2 separate regions of the Homo sapiens genome follow, and region 1 is linked to region 2. A link means that fine-mapping ties the variant in region 2 to the expression of a gene that starts in the linked region. Tissue or cell type: whole blood. Region 2 holds a variant in brackets; the other region holds the start of a gene. All regions are shown on one strand. Distances are between the middles of the regions.

Region 1 (8,106 bases), 160 kb after region 2:
GGATCCTACCCATTACCACAACACTGAAGGAATAAGCTTCTGCAGAAATTCAACATATGGCCTATTTACATAACAAGCATCACAACTCCAAATTAGCCATTTTGATGTGTCAAAGACATAACACCTTCATAGCAAGACTACTTCAAAAAAGGGAAGAAAAAAGAAAGGTTTGTTTTTCTTCTATAATTATGTTTACTGGGTTTTTAACTGTTTGTAACATGAAAATCTTATTTTAATTGTGTGATTACACTTTAAGGCAAAACAGTGATGAAATGGATTAGTTGAATGTTGCACAACATTCAGAGATCAATAAACAGACCCAATCACTTAAATCTGTCCATATGAGACACCTACTCTCATGTCCTGTGTCATGCTTGTAAAATCTACTCTTCTGTGCACAGAAATTATAAAAAACATATGATTTAATTATCACAGTCAAATGACAGTAAAAGTGCTACAGAAGATGGCTAGGAAAGAAGTACTATGAAGCAGTGACTAAGCAGTACCTGTCAAGTGCACATAAAATGCATTCCACTCTTGTCATACAGTGGGACAGGTAGTAGCAGCTTAGATCTTACGAAGAGCAACCACAACTTTTTCCATCCTATCCAAACTGTAACCAGAAGTTCTTGTCCTGGCTCACCTCAGAAAATGCTGATTAAAACTGTGTAAAGTAATAGAATGAAGACCACCTATGCCCTTTCAACACACAACCATTCACGAACATTCACTGTGATTGATAACACAACTCTGATCGCAGACTGAGAAACTCACAAAAATTAGGCCCCAAAGTGAGATATTTCTAAAGCTTAACTTCTGATGTAAAAGCTTACCACTTACATGGCAAAACGGGTCCATAAAATGCTTCAGACTGGCATGCAATCAAAGACTGCAACGGTGTGGCCTAAGTATTTTCTTTCCCTGATCCTTACTGGTGTGGCAGAGCAGCTTCTCAAGCCCACAGATAACTCTCTCCACAATGGCCTCAGGAAAATCAGTGCATGCAGAAAAACTATTTACTGAAGACTTTCATTAGGGGGCTCCCTAAAACAAAATGAATACAAAAGGAGTCTTGATCATTTTGCCTGTCTAAATGAGCACATTAAACTAAGTTGATTCTTAGAAAATCATTTAATATTTTCAGGGATTAAAGAAAGAAAATTGCCAATTAATACAGTCTTTTCCCAGATGTTCAGTTTTTACTAACGTCTTTAGCTATTCTCTGCATTCAAGTGATTGTATTTTTATGCAAATTATCTTTTGGGGCTAGTCTCTAGTTTGTGTGTCTGTGTGTGTGTGTGTGTGTATTTAAAGCCACACAGATACAGAATTTGACATGTTTTCTGCCACACAGATACAGATTTGACATGTTTTCTGTTCTGCTGCTCCATACAATAGGTTTTAACACAGCTTGAGCTTATTCCAAAACTCTAATTAGAAACTGCAGTATTTGCCTTGTCCAAATAGAAACCCATTCCCAAAGTTGATTTTTCCCCAGTTAAAATTCAACAAAGAATATCATACACAGATATTTTTAAACACGACAGTTACTAGATAAAACTGCCCTATCTAACAACACATTGCTTTCTGGTTAAGCAACACAATTTCATAAGGCCTATCAAATACTTTATCCAGACGGCCACTCTATTTTCAGGGTATTGGTTGTATTATTTGAAGTCTTTTTTTTTTTTCAGAGTGAAGAGATTTCTGACTTCCTGTCCTCTTCCCTGCTATATTACATACATCTGCTTAAACTCTGGAAAACAGTACCAGTCAAAGTGGTGCTGAAACCTTCCTTTAAGACAAACTAAAACGATGTTAAAAAGGTTACACGACCTTACTATTTCAAGTACTGGTATAAAACCACTTTCTCTGCACAGGTTCTAAAATTTCACAGTCGTTTGTCTTAAAGTCTGTCGGCTTGTGAGGGGGCTGGTACATATTTTAATATTTAAATTTCAAAAAATAAGCAATGAGACTGTGTTTGAAGTTCAAGGGTTTTCACTAGTTCTCAAGCTACAAACCCTGTAATATAGCCAAAAGAAAACGTACAGAAAGAATCTTTCACGAAAAGTGTCAGGTCTCCAAAACCCCGACATCTGCTAAAACCAGGATTGCGGGGGGGATGAGAAGCTCGTGAAGTTCAAAAACACACCAACCCCGCGGGAACACGAAACCTCCACTCGCGAAGACGCGACGCTTCCGCCGCATCCCCGCGCAGGTGAAGACTCGGCCCTTCAGCCCCGCGTGTGCGGCAGCATGATATTCAGAGTGCGCCGGCGTCCAGCGCGAGCGCATCCTACGACAACCCCGTCTCCCGCTGGGGTCCGCAGCCCGCGGACTCCGGGGTCCCCCCGCCCAAATGCGGCGGCGCGACCGCTTCGTCCCGCGGCCAGGGCGCTCCGCGTCTGCTCCGGCCACCCCAGCCCACCCGCGCAGCGCGGACGCCAACGCATCCCACTCCCGCTGGGCGCCAGGGGCGCGGGGTTCAGTGGGGCCGCGGCCCCCGCACCCGGCTGGGATCCGAGGGCGGGGTGGTCGCGGCTGACGTGGGCTTTGCGGCTCCGGGCCAGAGAGCAGCCTGGGGGACGGTGGGTCTCTTTCCGGCTTGGGAGGGAACGGGGGCGCCCGCGCGGGAGGACGGCAGGCGAGGGACGGCGGCCGCGGGCGATTCAGATCCGGGGCGGGCGGGTACACGTCGGAGCGCGGCGGCCACACGCTCGCCCGGGGAGCGCCACTGTGCGTCCCAGCCGGCGCCTCCTCCCGCTTGCCCGCGCCGGCTGGAGAAAGGAAGGACGGCGACCTTCGCGTCCGGTCCGCGCCACCAGCCCGCCTCGGCGCCGAGCGCGGGCCACACCCAGCGCTCCGGGAGGCGGCGGAGGCTGGGCGGCCCGGGCTGCGGAATGCTCGGCCCAGCCGAGTCTCCGTCCCGGCCGCGCAGGCCCCTCCGCGTCCGCCCGCGCCCTGCATCCCCAGCCGGCCCGGCGTGGAGGGGGTCCTGGGCTTACCTCTGTGTCGAGCGCCGGCTCCTCCGTCCCGGGCCGGAGCCGGGGCCCGGGGGCGCGGTCGCCAGGGGAGGCGCCGCGGCGGTGGCGGCCCCTGCGGCTCGGAGGGCGGGCCGAGCGGGAGCCGCTGCCTGGGCCGCGCGCCGTCCGGAGCTCGCCCCGCGCTGCCGGCGCTTGCAGCGGAGGGCGCAGCCAGCTCGGCCCCCGGACTGGATTCCTTCACTGACACAACTCCGGCTCGGCCGCCCCACGCAGGGACACTCCCGCCCCTCGCAGGCTGCCCCCGCCCGCCGACCCGCCCGCCTTCCCCTCGGTGTCACTCACCAGGAGCACACACCCCAGCCGGCGCCCCTCGCTCCCGCTCGCAAACACAGCGCTGCTCACGCCTCTCTCGGGTTTTGTATCCGCTCACACGCACGTTCTGACACAGATCTCGTCCCTCCACACGCCCTCCCTAGCTCCTTTCCCACCCCACTTTCTAGAAGAATCCCAGTACAGCTTCCGCACTTTGCTTGCTTGCTCCAGACCGACTTCCTCGCCTTTCCCCAAACCTCCACTTCACCGAAACTCCCCTTGTTAATGAAAGATTTTGTCACAATCCGCACGTGTTGCAAGAGAATCATCTTCTCCTACCCGAGAAAATGAACTTTGCTCCCTCAGCACTGTCTGCAAATACGAGATGTTTTTCCTTTTAGAAGGTAGTAATGCTTTCTGGAGAGGATCCAAGCTCAAAATGTAAGCAAAGATAGCCCATTCGAAAATGACCTGAAAAATCAGGCGCGGAAAAAGTGCTGGAGCTCGGGTCAGCCCTTGGAAACCCGACCAACCCGGGGTGTTCCGCCGCCTCCTCTGCGCTGCGGGTCTGCACACTGGGCTCCAAACGTGTGTGTAATAACCAAGTTACACATGGGCATCGTGGGCTTCAGCCGTGGGTTTCTGCCTGGGAGTACAGTAGTCGGGAGAGTAAAAGCAGTTTCTCAATCATTATTCATGATGGAAGCACTTTAGATAACACTCTTCTTCCAGAGGCAGTAGAGTGAAATGCAGGCAGCTCTCCAATTCAGGTTTTTATTTATTTATTTATTTATTTATTTATTTAGAAGGGTGACTTCTTAGCTTCCTTTTTTTTTTTTTTTTTTGGCAATACCAATAACTGTTTCTGAGTGGCTCCTTGGCTGTCAAGCTCCTTACAAATATCAGACCAGAGTTTGTTATGCTTCTCGAGCTCCAGACTCTAATGGGCCTCCGAGGGCACTGCAGAATCGTACATAATCCGATGTTCAGGAATTCATAATTTGAAATAAAATACAAACACCTTTCGGATAAAGTTCAAATCTGCTAACATAATGTGGCCCTGTTGACAACGCACTGCTGAAATAAAGAGAGGAGCTAAAACGAAAGGAATTCATTTTCTTATGTGACTTGGAGTGGTTCTTGCTACCTTATAGTCGCCTTGGATTGGTGTGTGGATAATATAATTTATTTAACAGACATTAGCAAGTGCTTTATAAGTACTAGCTCATTTAATCCTTGGAAGAACCCCATCAGGTAGGTACTACTTTTGTCCTGTTTTACAGATAAACTGAGGGCTGGGCCCAGTGGCTCACACCTGTAATCCCAACACTTTCGGAGACCGAGGTGGGCAAATCTCTTGAGCCCTGGAGATCAAGACCAGCCTGGGCAACATAGTGAAACTCCATCCCTCCAAAACAAAAAAACTAATAATAATAATTGGCCGGGCATGGTGGTGCACGCCTGTAGTCCCAGCTACTCAGGAGGCTGAGGTGGGAGGATTACCTGAACCAGGTAGGCTAAGGTTGCAGTGAGCCAGGATCACACCCCTGCGCTCTAGTGTGGGCAACAGAGCCAGAGCCTTTAAAAGAAAAGAAAGAAAGAAACTGAGGCACAGAGAGGTGAAATAAGTTGCCTAAGTTTTTAGCTAGTAAGTGGTAAAGGAAGAATTTGAACCTAGACCGTTGGACCCTGCCTGTGCTACAGAGAGGAAAGCTTGCTTCTAGAAGCCATACCACACATAAAGAACAAACATCCTATTGCTTATTAAATTTAGGTGTAATAAGTAACTTGTAGCCATTTGACTTGAAATTTGATGCACTTCTTAGGTCCTCTGGCTAAATAATTTATTTATGTTTTTGGGAGGTTTCCTCCATAATTAGAATTCCAAAATGAATAATAAACAACACTTTTCCTAGGAAGGGCTTTGGAAATAACATTGAACTCAGTCTTCATTCTTTTCTTCCACCACTTCATAATCTTCCCATGACTCCAAATCTAACTTGCTTAGTGAAGTCCGACAGAAAAAAATGCCTTCAAGAACAGAATATGACCAGAGGGAAGAAAGGGTTTTAAGAAGACCATATACCGCCTTTCTAATCGAAGGCTGCTTCTTTTAGTAAGTACTGTAGGTAGGAGCTATAAGAATAAATGCTGTATGTGTTGAGAGCAAAGATGTTAAAGCAGTGAATCAATGAAAAAATAGAGACTAGGCAGGTAGGAGTAGCCACTGTACCACAGACTAGGCTAAAACTAATTCTCTACTGTGAGTGGAGGCCTAGCGCGTGAAAAGACAAGTATAGAATAACTTCGAAGAAAACAATTGTATATTTCAAGAGTTAGCTAAGGGGCCCAGCACCCCCCCAAAAAAATCAGAGTTTTAAAAGTTTTAGAGACAGTGAATTTCAAATCAAACTTGAACCTTTTGCTGTTCAAATTAATTTCTTCTGGAAATAATGAAAACTTCTGTTTCTGTTAGAGAGGATTTAATATGCTTATTGAAACATGTAAAAGCTTCTTGCACATCATATAACTAACAAAGCATTATTTTTCTGAATTAGGCATAAATGATTTTTAAAATATGCATTATATTCCTATTATTATAGGGAGATAGAAAAGTCTGAAGAAACAAAATATGAATAAGATATATGTTGATGTTTTCACCAGATGGTCAAAGTTTATTTGAAAAATTACATTGTTTGAAATCTTGATCTGTGTAATGCTAGTTTGACAGTATTGTTCAAAATGATTCTCTGTGATTACAATTCAGAGATTGAATTGCATTTTACTATTTTCTAAACTAAATAGAAATGTGAAGATCTTTTCTTAAGCAAACAAAACAAGAACCATAAGAGCAGATGTTTTCTGAGGGATGAACAAAGTATGTTCGTTTATATTTTTTAACATTTACGTGTAGGTATTTTTAATCTGTGCGTACTGCTTTCCTCCACATTGTCACCTACACTCTTTATTCAGGGTGCTTAATTGTAAGCCTGGAGAAACAATGCCATGTCCTTCAATAAAGATGACTCTTTTCTTGCAGTATTGATTTTTGCAAAATGCCGTATTTCCCGCTTGCCACCCCTAGATTGTACCAGGCTCCTGATTCTCTAGGCATGATCGTTCAGAGCAGGGCTCACATTTGTGGATATAGCTCAGATTCTGGAAACCTGTTTCAGGCCATGATCAGTTGTGACTCTGTTAGGATTTTGATATCTGAATAAGTAGTGGGGACAGAGAGGAATTTTAGTTGCTAGACTCCAGATCACTAGGCAATATTCAAACTTATTGGGGAGGGCATCTACCATCTAGGATCTTGGACTTTGTGTGCAGTGAATGAATGGAATCTGGGTTATCTCCCATAGGAAGGGGATGAATATGTGTTCTGTGTTTGTTAATGTGCAATCCAGTAGGGCTGTTCACAAATATTCCAGCTCTGCTGCCTTTGAAGCACATGATAAGATTGTACTTCCCCACCTGACTAAAGTATAGTATAGCCCTGCGAGTTGCTTCAGCCAATGAAAGGTGGCCGGAAGTGATGAGTATAACTTTGAGTCAGAAGTTAAGAGTTGGGACATCAGTCACCGCATTCTTTTCTTCCTAGTGCTGCAACATCAAGGTGCGTGGTGGTGACTGCTTCATCAGACTGGAGTGAATGACAACAATGAGCAATGCCATCCCTGCTGAGCATTAGTGGACATGTAGTATGATCAAGAAATAAGCCTTTTTTGTTCTAAGCAACTGAGATTTGATGGTTGGTTGTTTCTGCACCGTAATCTAGCCTATTCTGTTTAAAAATAGGAAGGAAGAAAGAAACAGATAATTGCAGGGAACACCTTGGCAGAATATGGCTAATTATTCCCTTTCCTCCTCAGTGCACAATAAATTCACATTTCCTAGCCTCCCAAATTGTTAGGTGAAGCCAGGGACTGAATTCTGGCCAATGGAATGTAGGCGAAAGTGTTGTACTCCCCTTCCAGGCCTCATCCGTGGAAAGCCTCCCACATGATCTCTCTTCCCCATCTGCCATGTGGAAACTAAGGACCCTGAGACTTCAAAGCAGAAGTCAGGAAACTTTTTCTATAAAGGGCCAAATAGTAAATATTTTAGGCTTTGTGGATCATATAGTCTCTATCAAAACTGCTCAACTCTGCTGTTTTATGGAAAGCAGCCATAGGCACTATGTAAACAAATAAGTATGGCTATGTTCCAATAATACTTTATTTACAAAAACAGGCAGTGGGCTGCATGTGGCCTATGGGTTGTAATTTGCTGACCCCTTATCAAGAGGAGGGTAGAGCTAGGATGGAAGGAGCCTGGGTCTCTGAGTCACCCTGTCACTATTTCTTATAGACACTCACAAACACCTGATATTAAAACATTTAATATAAACATTTAATATACCTGTGTCTGCTTGTTGAACACCCACAGTTGTTATCTGAACACCCACAATTGTTATCTGAGTAAAAAAAAAATCCTTCTGTTGAATGAAGCATGACTAATACACTGTCTTAGCTCATATTCCAGAAAAAATTCCAGATGGATTAATAATCTAAACATAAAAAACTATAAAAGACTAAAAGAAAATATAGGAGACTTTTACAATATTTATAATATTTATAATCGAAGGCTGCTTCTTAGTAAGTACTGTAGGTAGGAGCTATAAGGGCTCCTTATAAGAGCTTTATAATACTAATTAGAAATATCATGAAAAAATTTCACAAGCTATAACAGAAAAAAATTAAACAGAGAAGACTATAAAAATTTAACATTTCTATCAAGTGAAGGGTACCATAAACAATGTTACCTA
Region 2 (8,106 bases):
CCAGGAGGTTGAGGCTGCAGTGGGCCGAGATTGTGCCAAAAAAAAGAAAAAAAAAAGAACAAAAACTGTGAAGATATATTTAGACTACAAGTAAAAACAGATTTGATTATGATCTTTAACTAATGAGATTATAACATGCTCCTTGTCAAAGTGCTATCTTAAAGCTCATGAAGACTTCAGGGCCTGAGAAAACACCTGTCAATATCATTAATAAGAATTCTCAAAGGCTGAGACAGCAAAACCCAACAAGACACCTGTTAGAAAACCACCATTTTTAAAGTCTTACAAAAAAAAAAAAGAAAAGACTTTTTCTTGGAGATGATAAAAGGTATCTTAGGTATCTTTATAGCATGCCCAACTTCTATATCATCAGATCCTTTATTTTTATTTTTATTTTTTTTTGAGATGGAGTCTCACTCTGTTGCCCAGGCTGAAGGGCAGTGGTGCGATCTTGGCTCACTGAAACCTCCGCCTCCCGGGTTCAAGCAATTCTCCTGCCTCAGCCTCCCGAGTAACTGGGATTACAGGCACCCGCCACCATGCCTGGCTAAATTTTGTGTTTTTAGTAGAGACAGGGTTTCACCATGTTGGTCAGGCTGGTCTCAAACTCCTGACCTCAAGTGATCTGCCCACCTTGGCCTCCCAAAGTGCTGGGATTATAGGAGTGAGCCATTGCATCCGGCAGATCCCAATTTTTTGTTAATTCTCTAAGGATAAGGGGGAAATCACCTCCAAAAGATATAGTGGAGAAGCAGAAGGAGAGAAGGAAGATGGTTCTTTGGACACTTGTGTCTTTAGACATCATAATAGATAAGAATGAAGAATGCCATTTTGAAATGTATTCTCCTTACTGAAATCCCAAGAGAAGAGAAGACTGCACTAACTTTAGCCTCTTATTGATCAGCTAAACATAAATGGGGATTAAAATATCTTAAAAAACAAATGCCAGATTTCCTCTCATTAGTAGTTTAGTAGGTTCCGAGTCTTGTTCCAGAGTCTCTGTGGGTCCCTTCCACGTGTGGGCTGGTTTCGGGGCCCCAGGGATGGTGGCAGTCCTAGCCATGAGAAGAACTGTGTCACTGGGGTGGACTCTGCTCACGTGGTCAAGAGTGCATGCAGGCCACTTCCTCCACATGGGAAAGCACCTGGCAGGCATGGATGAGAGCGACCAGGGGAGTTCCCAAGAGGCCAGCTGGGCAGTGCTGCTGGGTGGGGAGTGGGTGAGGGCAGGTGGCGGGAGCCTGAGTGTGACCCCAGGAGGCCCAGAATCTAGTAGTTGCTGTTTTCTTCCTCTGGAAACAGGTTTTTTTTTTTTTTTCCTCTGGCACCCTGCACCAGTGTCGGCTTACCTGCTTGTTGGCCGGCATGGTCTGGTGAGAGGGGTCGGCGGTGCTGGGGAGACTGCTCACCATTTTGGGGTTTGCCGCTTTGCCTTCAGAGGGCTTATTGTGAGTGGATGATTTTCGGGAAAAGTTACTCTGTTTCCCAGAGGTTGCTGCGTGCGCATTCAGCAGAGGCAGCAGGGAGCTGCAGGGAGTTCTTGAGGAATAGTTGTTCTTTGGATGTGTAACTGCAATAATAAAGTGCTCAGTGTTACGAGCTGCACCTCCAACACTGCTGCCTCAGTAACCCATTAGGAAGCGCTAGAAGATGAAGAAACTGGCCAGGAGCTCCACAAAAACATTAAAAAGTTTTCTTTTGAAAGATGTTATTTGAAAGGGCATCTTGGTGCTTAAGAGAACAACCAAATTTCTTTTGTGGGAATCACTGAACTGTGATTACAGCATAATCATCCAAGTTGGGAGACATTTGTAGGAAATAAGACATATCTGACCAACTTAAATATTATTCTTTAGGTCAAGAACCACCAAGGGAAAAGAGATAATGAAACCTCAAGGTTCCCTCTCTGGCCCTGTCTGCAAATGTACTCTGCCTCGTAGAGTCCCCATTACCAAACCTGTTCTCACTTCCCTGATCAGTTCCCTGGACCAACTGGTACTGCAGACACAGAAAGATTGGGAGCTATGCGGACACTCTGGCCTGTCAGATCCACGATGTTCTGAGAGCTTGGGAATGGGGTGATGTTGGATGTTAGGAATTCTGTTACTCTGGGTCATGCATATCCCCCAAACACAGGGCCAGGCCCGCCAGCCCCTAAGGCATCTTGTATATTTCATTAGTGCTCCATCATCACACCTTTAATCAGCCCCGTTTTCTGCAGCCTCACTGCAGATGTGCACCACTTCCAAGGTTACAGGCAAGGCAGGCTGATCAGGCGGACACCCGTCAGAGCTCAGGGCTCAGGGCTCAGGGCTCAGGCAGGTCTGCTCAGCGTTTATTATGACCATTCCCCCTGGTTTTGAAAGTGGTGGTTTCTGCTGGGATGATTTCTATGTGATTACACTGAATCAGAACTGGAGGGAATCAATTCAAGGATAAAGCCCTGACTTCCCTCTCACAGTTCACCAGAATCTGACTGCCAGCTAGACCTTTCTTTGAGGCTTAAAACTGTCACCAATTTTTGAAAGCAACTTTGTCTGCTCTCTTTGTTGGATCAGATTTAATCCCAGGGTTCTGCTAGAGGACTAGGCGGGACCAGTAAGAATCACAATACAGGAGAAATGGAAAGGCCAGGGACACATCCCCAGTCCCTTCAGTGTACTGGGAAGGTGTGACAGCAAGCTGGGGCTGTCCAAATGTGACCAGGGGATTTCCGTGGCTCCTATGCTCACCAGATTCAGTTTCATGGGGTCATTATTGTCTGCAGATCAGGGACCACTATTTCCGGTTCAGTACCTGTGGGTTCTCAATGTGCTCTCAACAAAGCTGAGAAGGAAGGGCCTTTGGATGATTACGGTGTCTGTCTTTCAGAATGGACACCTGGAATTTAGTAAGGGACCATTTCTCCCACTAGATGGCACTTGAAGTGCTCAGGAGGAAAGGAGGTGAAGGGGCACCTCTCCATCGCCCCGAGATCGGTGGTGACAGGGCATCGCTCAGCATCACTGTCTTGCTCATTGAGGGCTGAAGTGGAAAAGAGGGTGGGCAGTTCCCTTTTTTAGAGGTGGGGCAAAAGCTGGGGATAGAGAATGGCAAATAGGTAGATTCTTTCATAAGGAAGAGTACAGGGGGGAACAATAATTTTTAAAAATGCAGTCAGAAAATCAAATAATTGGCAAGGATGTGTGGACAAGGATGCTCGCAGCAGTGTTAATTAATTAATTAATTAATTTTTTGAGATGGAGTCTCGCTCTGTCGCCCAGGCTGGAGTGCAGTGGTGCGATCTCCACTGACTGCAATCTCTGCCTCCCGGGTCCAGGTTCAAGTGATTCTCCTGCCTCAGCCTCCCAAGTAGCTGGGCTTACAGGCACCTGCCACCACGCCCAGCTAATTTTTG[C/T]ACTTTTAGTAGAGATGGGGGTTTTACCATATTGGCTAGGCTGGCCTCGAACTCCTGGCCTCAGGTGATCAGAGTGTTATTTTAATGGTGAAAAACTGCAAGCAATCTAAATGCAGCAACCAGAAGACCGGTGACATCTATTATATTTAGAGAAATGACTGGTTAAATATATTGATATGAAAAAATGTCTACCATAGATTGTGAAGTGATAAAAGCAAATTGTGTTACTATATATGTATGCAGTGTAGTACAGTATAGTTAATTCTATCATAATAGGAAGTGCAGCCAAATCTTAATTTTTCAGCTGACTGCGAGGCTGTGGGTTTCCACGTCATTGACTAGTCCTTTCCTCCTTGTGGCCGTCCTTAAAGCCGCTTCAGTGCTCATTCCCACCTCCCCTTGTGGGTGGGCTGGTGTAGGGGGAAAATATAGCAGCCAATTTTGTTGCACATTAGCTGCTCTAATTAAGGCTTAATAGGGAACAAGACTAAAGCTAATGGCTGAGTGAAGTCTTTCATTATCTGCAGCCTCACTCAGCACAGAGAACCGAGGGTGGAGGCTCAGGGCACTGCTGAGGGGCTCGCATAACAGCTGGGCCCTGCACAACAATAACTGATTGTTCCCAGACATGTTAGGAAGACTCACTCTCTCTGCCTAACGAGTTTCTGTAGAACCAGGGCTGTTTGAAATCAGAGAAGCAGTTTAACTGGCAGTGCTTAATAAAAGTTTGCAAAAGGTATCAACTAGTTGACCTGTTCTGTTCCACTTAATAAATCCTGGGGAATTACTGATGGGCAGTGGCATTTGAAGACTCTAGGTTCAAATCTCGACATTTCTGGTGACTTGTGTCATGAGCTTAGATCATTAAATCTCTTTAGACCTCACGTTAGCCCCCTGGGGGGACTGCACACCTGACATTTCCAATAGCAACTCCAAATAGCACCAAGGTTACTCACACAGAATTATTCAGCAAATATGCAAAACTCACTTTCTCCGCAGAGCATGATTTGGGCCTTCAGCTGTTCGATGTCACAGGAAAACCGGGCAGCTTTCCCGAGCTCCTCGTCATATTTACGCTCGCTGACAAAGTGCTGGAGGAAAGAGATGAAAAGCAGGAACCCCATGATTACAGAAATGACCAAGGCACCCCCGTGGATGCGTTCACTCTGCTCTTCCGGTGTCCACTGCAGTGCTGACCTGGTGGGGATCTTTCCAGCCCTGTTGCTGGGAGGCTCCACGCTCAGTCTTAGTGCTGACCTGGCTAGGGAATGAGCATCTTCCTGCCTGGGGAATATGTGAGGGGCCTGTGTTTCTCTTGTTTGGGCCTACATGAAATGTGTGTCTGACTCATCTATTTAACCTTTTAGCACCCCTCGCCCTCCTAGTACTTTTCTGAATTGCATTCTGGCAGGGTCTTCTGAGTTTGGCCAAGTGCCTTCTAAGGTATTAACCATCAAGAGAAAACATGTCGTCCTTCCTAGACCCCCATTCCTATTTTAACAGGGAACCGGGACGTCCACAAAGCCTTTAGTGTCTGGAAAATATTATTTTAAATGGCAGAATTTCAAGTGCTGTGAAAAGAAGTGAGAAAGAGATTATTTTTCCATTCATTTAAAATTAAGATCTGTGTGTAGAAGACATGGTGAGAAATACAGAAATAACTGCGACTCAGTCCCTTCTTGAGTTTACCAGGGAGTTTAGCAATGGCAAGGAAAACAGATACCATTAACTACAATACAAGGTGGAATGTGGTTGGTGCTTTAGGAATATAAAAGAGGAAGAAATTATTTCCTACTGAGGGCAATGGGGAAAGAGTTATTTAAGAGGGAACATTGAAAAAATCATTGAACACTTACGAGGCACTGGTCAAATTCTTAGCAGATAATCTCATTTCATCTGATCACAGTATTATGAAGTCAGTATTATTACCTCTGTTTTACAGATGGGGGAATTGGGGTTCTACGAGTCTAAGAGAATGTGTAACTTATCCAAGGTCACAGAAGTAGAAAATTTTGCAGCTGGACTGTTTCACTCCAAAGCCTGTGCTACTAACTATTTTATGATGGGTGGCGTTTTGATAGGCAGAAATGAAACTCGGAAGATGAGGTGATTTCAATAGATCAGGAAGCTAGCAATTTTATATTTCTTACTTGATGTTCTAACAAGCTGGGATTTTTGTAGAGAGAGATGGAAGTTGGAACATATATTGAAGTCCAGCTGTGAATTTCTTTCTGAGGGGAAGGAGATATACTGGGGAAACCAGATCTGCTTTGGGAGTTTACGTCTGGTCTTAGTGGAGTACGAGGCTGAAGGGAGACAGTGTAGGCAGAGAGACTAGTGTGGAGGCCACTGCAATTGGCTGGGTGGGAGGCCACAAAGGCCAGAGCAGAGAAGCTGAGGAGGGAAAGGCCACTGACGCCCTCAGCACCCTCAGGTGAGGTCCTCTTCCCCATGGGGCCCGCTTTCATGCCCAACCAGGAGGGAGGGAGTTGAAAAGTCACTTGCCACTGTCAATCATTGCCAAGCAGTTTTATGCCCCAATTTGCAATCTTACTTTCAAAGCTAGCAGCAGCTGTGTCTTGCAACCACTCTAGTTTCCTGGAAGTGGGTAAGAAGCTGGAAGGCGTGTGTGTGTGTGTGTGTGTGTGTGTGTGTGTAGTATACTGGGTGAAAAAGTGGATAAGGGGAATTTTAAAATTTCTTCCTATTTTGTTGTAAATACTTATACTTGCCTTCCTGGTAACTATTTCCCCTTCTGGTAACTGTACCCTGATGCAGTTTCAAAGATCCACAGTCTTGGTGGGTCTGGCGATCAAGATGTCACACCCTCTCTGGGCCAAATGATGGACGTGACCCAAGTGGAGGCCAATCAGAGCCTCTCTCTTAGGGATCCGAGCCAAGTGGGGTGGTACAGGGCTGATGGTCCCATGAGAGTGTCTAGTGATTATTGCTTCTTATTTCACCAGAGCCACCCCAGTTCCTACCTAATTGTTGAGCTGAGCCTTCAGACAGGGCTCTGCTTTGCTGAGCTATACTCACATCCTGTCAAATTCTACTTGTCCTTGAGGTTAGCCAGGGTCAGTTTCTGTTGCTTGTCAATGAAGGAATCTAATAAATACGTATTTATGGGTAGTATTCTTAATAAAAATGCAACTAAACTAGAAAATAATACAGGAAAGAAATCTCCACAGACCGCATGCTTTCTAATCTTCACCATTACACTACGTTCATGCTTCGTGTGTGTATATATACCTGTGGATGTGTTTATATGCATACATACAAATCACAGTGTGTGAAAATAATATCCCCCATCCCAGCTATAATTCATGGCCTGGCCAAGTTACTTTATTTGGTTCAGTCTCTACTGACTGACAAAATAGCTTGTACCTCTCCTTTGGAGTAACACATTCCTTCAAAGCACATTACACTTAAACACAGTGATTATGTGGGTCTTCCCCCTTCTGTGTTCTCTATTTCCACCCTGTGGAAGAGAGCTGGGTGTACATGTTAGATCCTCAGAGAGCAGAACTCTGTGGATGCAAAACAAACATAATTGGGATCAGCTCTCTGGCTCAGGGTTCAGGCTGTGATATTTTAGAACTGACCTTAATTTCTGCCCTGAGTTCGGCCAGCTGCATCTCTGCCATCTGACTGGCAAGGTCAGTGAGTCTCTTTAGTTCTTCTGCTTTCTTCTGACGAGCAGTCAGGATTTCCACTGCCAAATAAGGAGGAGTCATACATTAGGGCCAGAGATTGAAACATATTAAATAACCTAATTTCTTGGAATCAGTTCTCACTCCACAGACTGATTGCTTTGTTGGACCACGACTGTGTTTTCTGAGTTGGTCATGGAGGCGGGTTCACCCTCTGTGCCTATTACCAACAACCCAGTTCCTCCTGTCCTCCTCCACCAATCCCCAAGCCAAACACAGTCCCTTCTGATTCACTGTACACTCCCACTCTACATTTTCTCCACTGGTGTCTGACCTCACTTACGGAATTTAGACTTTTGAAATTTGTTACTCCGAACAACGATCTCTGAAAAACAACACTTATTAAAATCCTCTCTGAGTGATACCGCCAAGACAGGAAGTCTACTAAGCAGAAATCATTCTATATGTGCTGCACTATTCAACTTTAACAGCAGCAGCCCTCTTGAACTTTAACACATACTCACTTAGGGTGACTAGCTGTGTTACTGGAATCTGACATAAAAATCTAACTTTATTAGTTTTTTTGTGAGCCAAAAATGTCTCTGCTTTTGATACTCTGCAGATATGTTTCCATTCAGCAAAAAAACAGAAGTTCTACCCCAGAGTGTCTTAGGTCTTTCTATAAGTGTCCCCAGTGGAAAAATTTCAAGAGTGAGTGAGGCCAGCTAGAACTAGATTCGTGTGAATTTTTTAGCACCTGCACACGTAGAGAAGACACTGGGGAGTACTCTGGCTCCAACATTTTCACACATCTTCAGATGAACTAAAGGTTCAAATAGATGTAGTAGCCTATCAGTTGGTTTGTGTCTGTGTGTGTATACACGTGTTTCCCAAAAGATTATGGCGCTCAGTAGCAATCAATACAGACACACAGGATGAGATTTAAATATGCAGCTGGATCTTTCAATAGATAGACTTCTGGCTCTCTAATTCGACTCATATGAATTGCCTTCATTTCTTTAGGACAAGCATTTTGAGGTGTAAGAAAAAAGGTAT

Evidence for each region. PIP is the estimated chance that this variant, and not a neighbour inherited with it, causes the effect.
Region 1: it holds the start of SPATS2L, and the variant in region 2 is fine-mapped to the expression of SPATS2L in whole blood (TOPMed, PIP 0.95).

The regions. Positions count from the first base shown.
Region 1 is chr2:200,301,825-200,309,930 of GRCh38, reverse strand. SPATS2L (spermatogenesis associated serine rich 2 like) reads right to left here and starts at 3,238. Exons shown (of 13, transcript NM_001100423.2): 1 at 3,009-3,238. RefSeq lists silencers at 2,274-2,603, 2,624-3,353 and enhancers at 3,764-3,863, 6,735-6,784, 6,327-7,526.
Region 2 is chr2:200,466,296-200,474,401 of GRCh38, reverse strand. It overlaps SPATS2L (spermatogenesis associated serine rich 2 like), which reads right to left. Exons shown (of 13, transcript NM_001100423.2): 10 at 7,003-7,112; 11 at 4,386-4,488; 12 at 1,350-1,570. The region is part of intron 2 of LOC101927741 (a long non-coding RNA gene); the gene reads left to right. Among named protein-coding and RNA genes, the nearest start is that of KCTD18, 40 kb to the left of the region's middle. RefSeq lists enhancers at 1,155-1,304, 2,620-2,799. The variant C/T (reference allele first, on the strand shown) is at 3,398.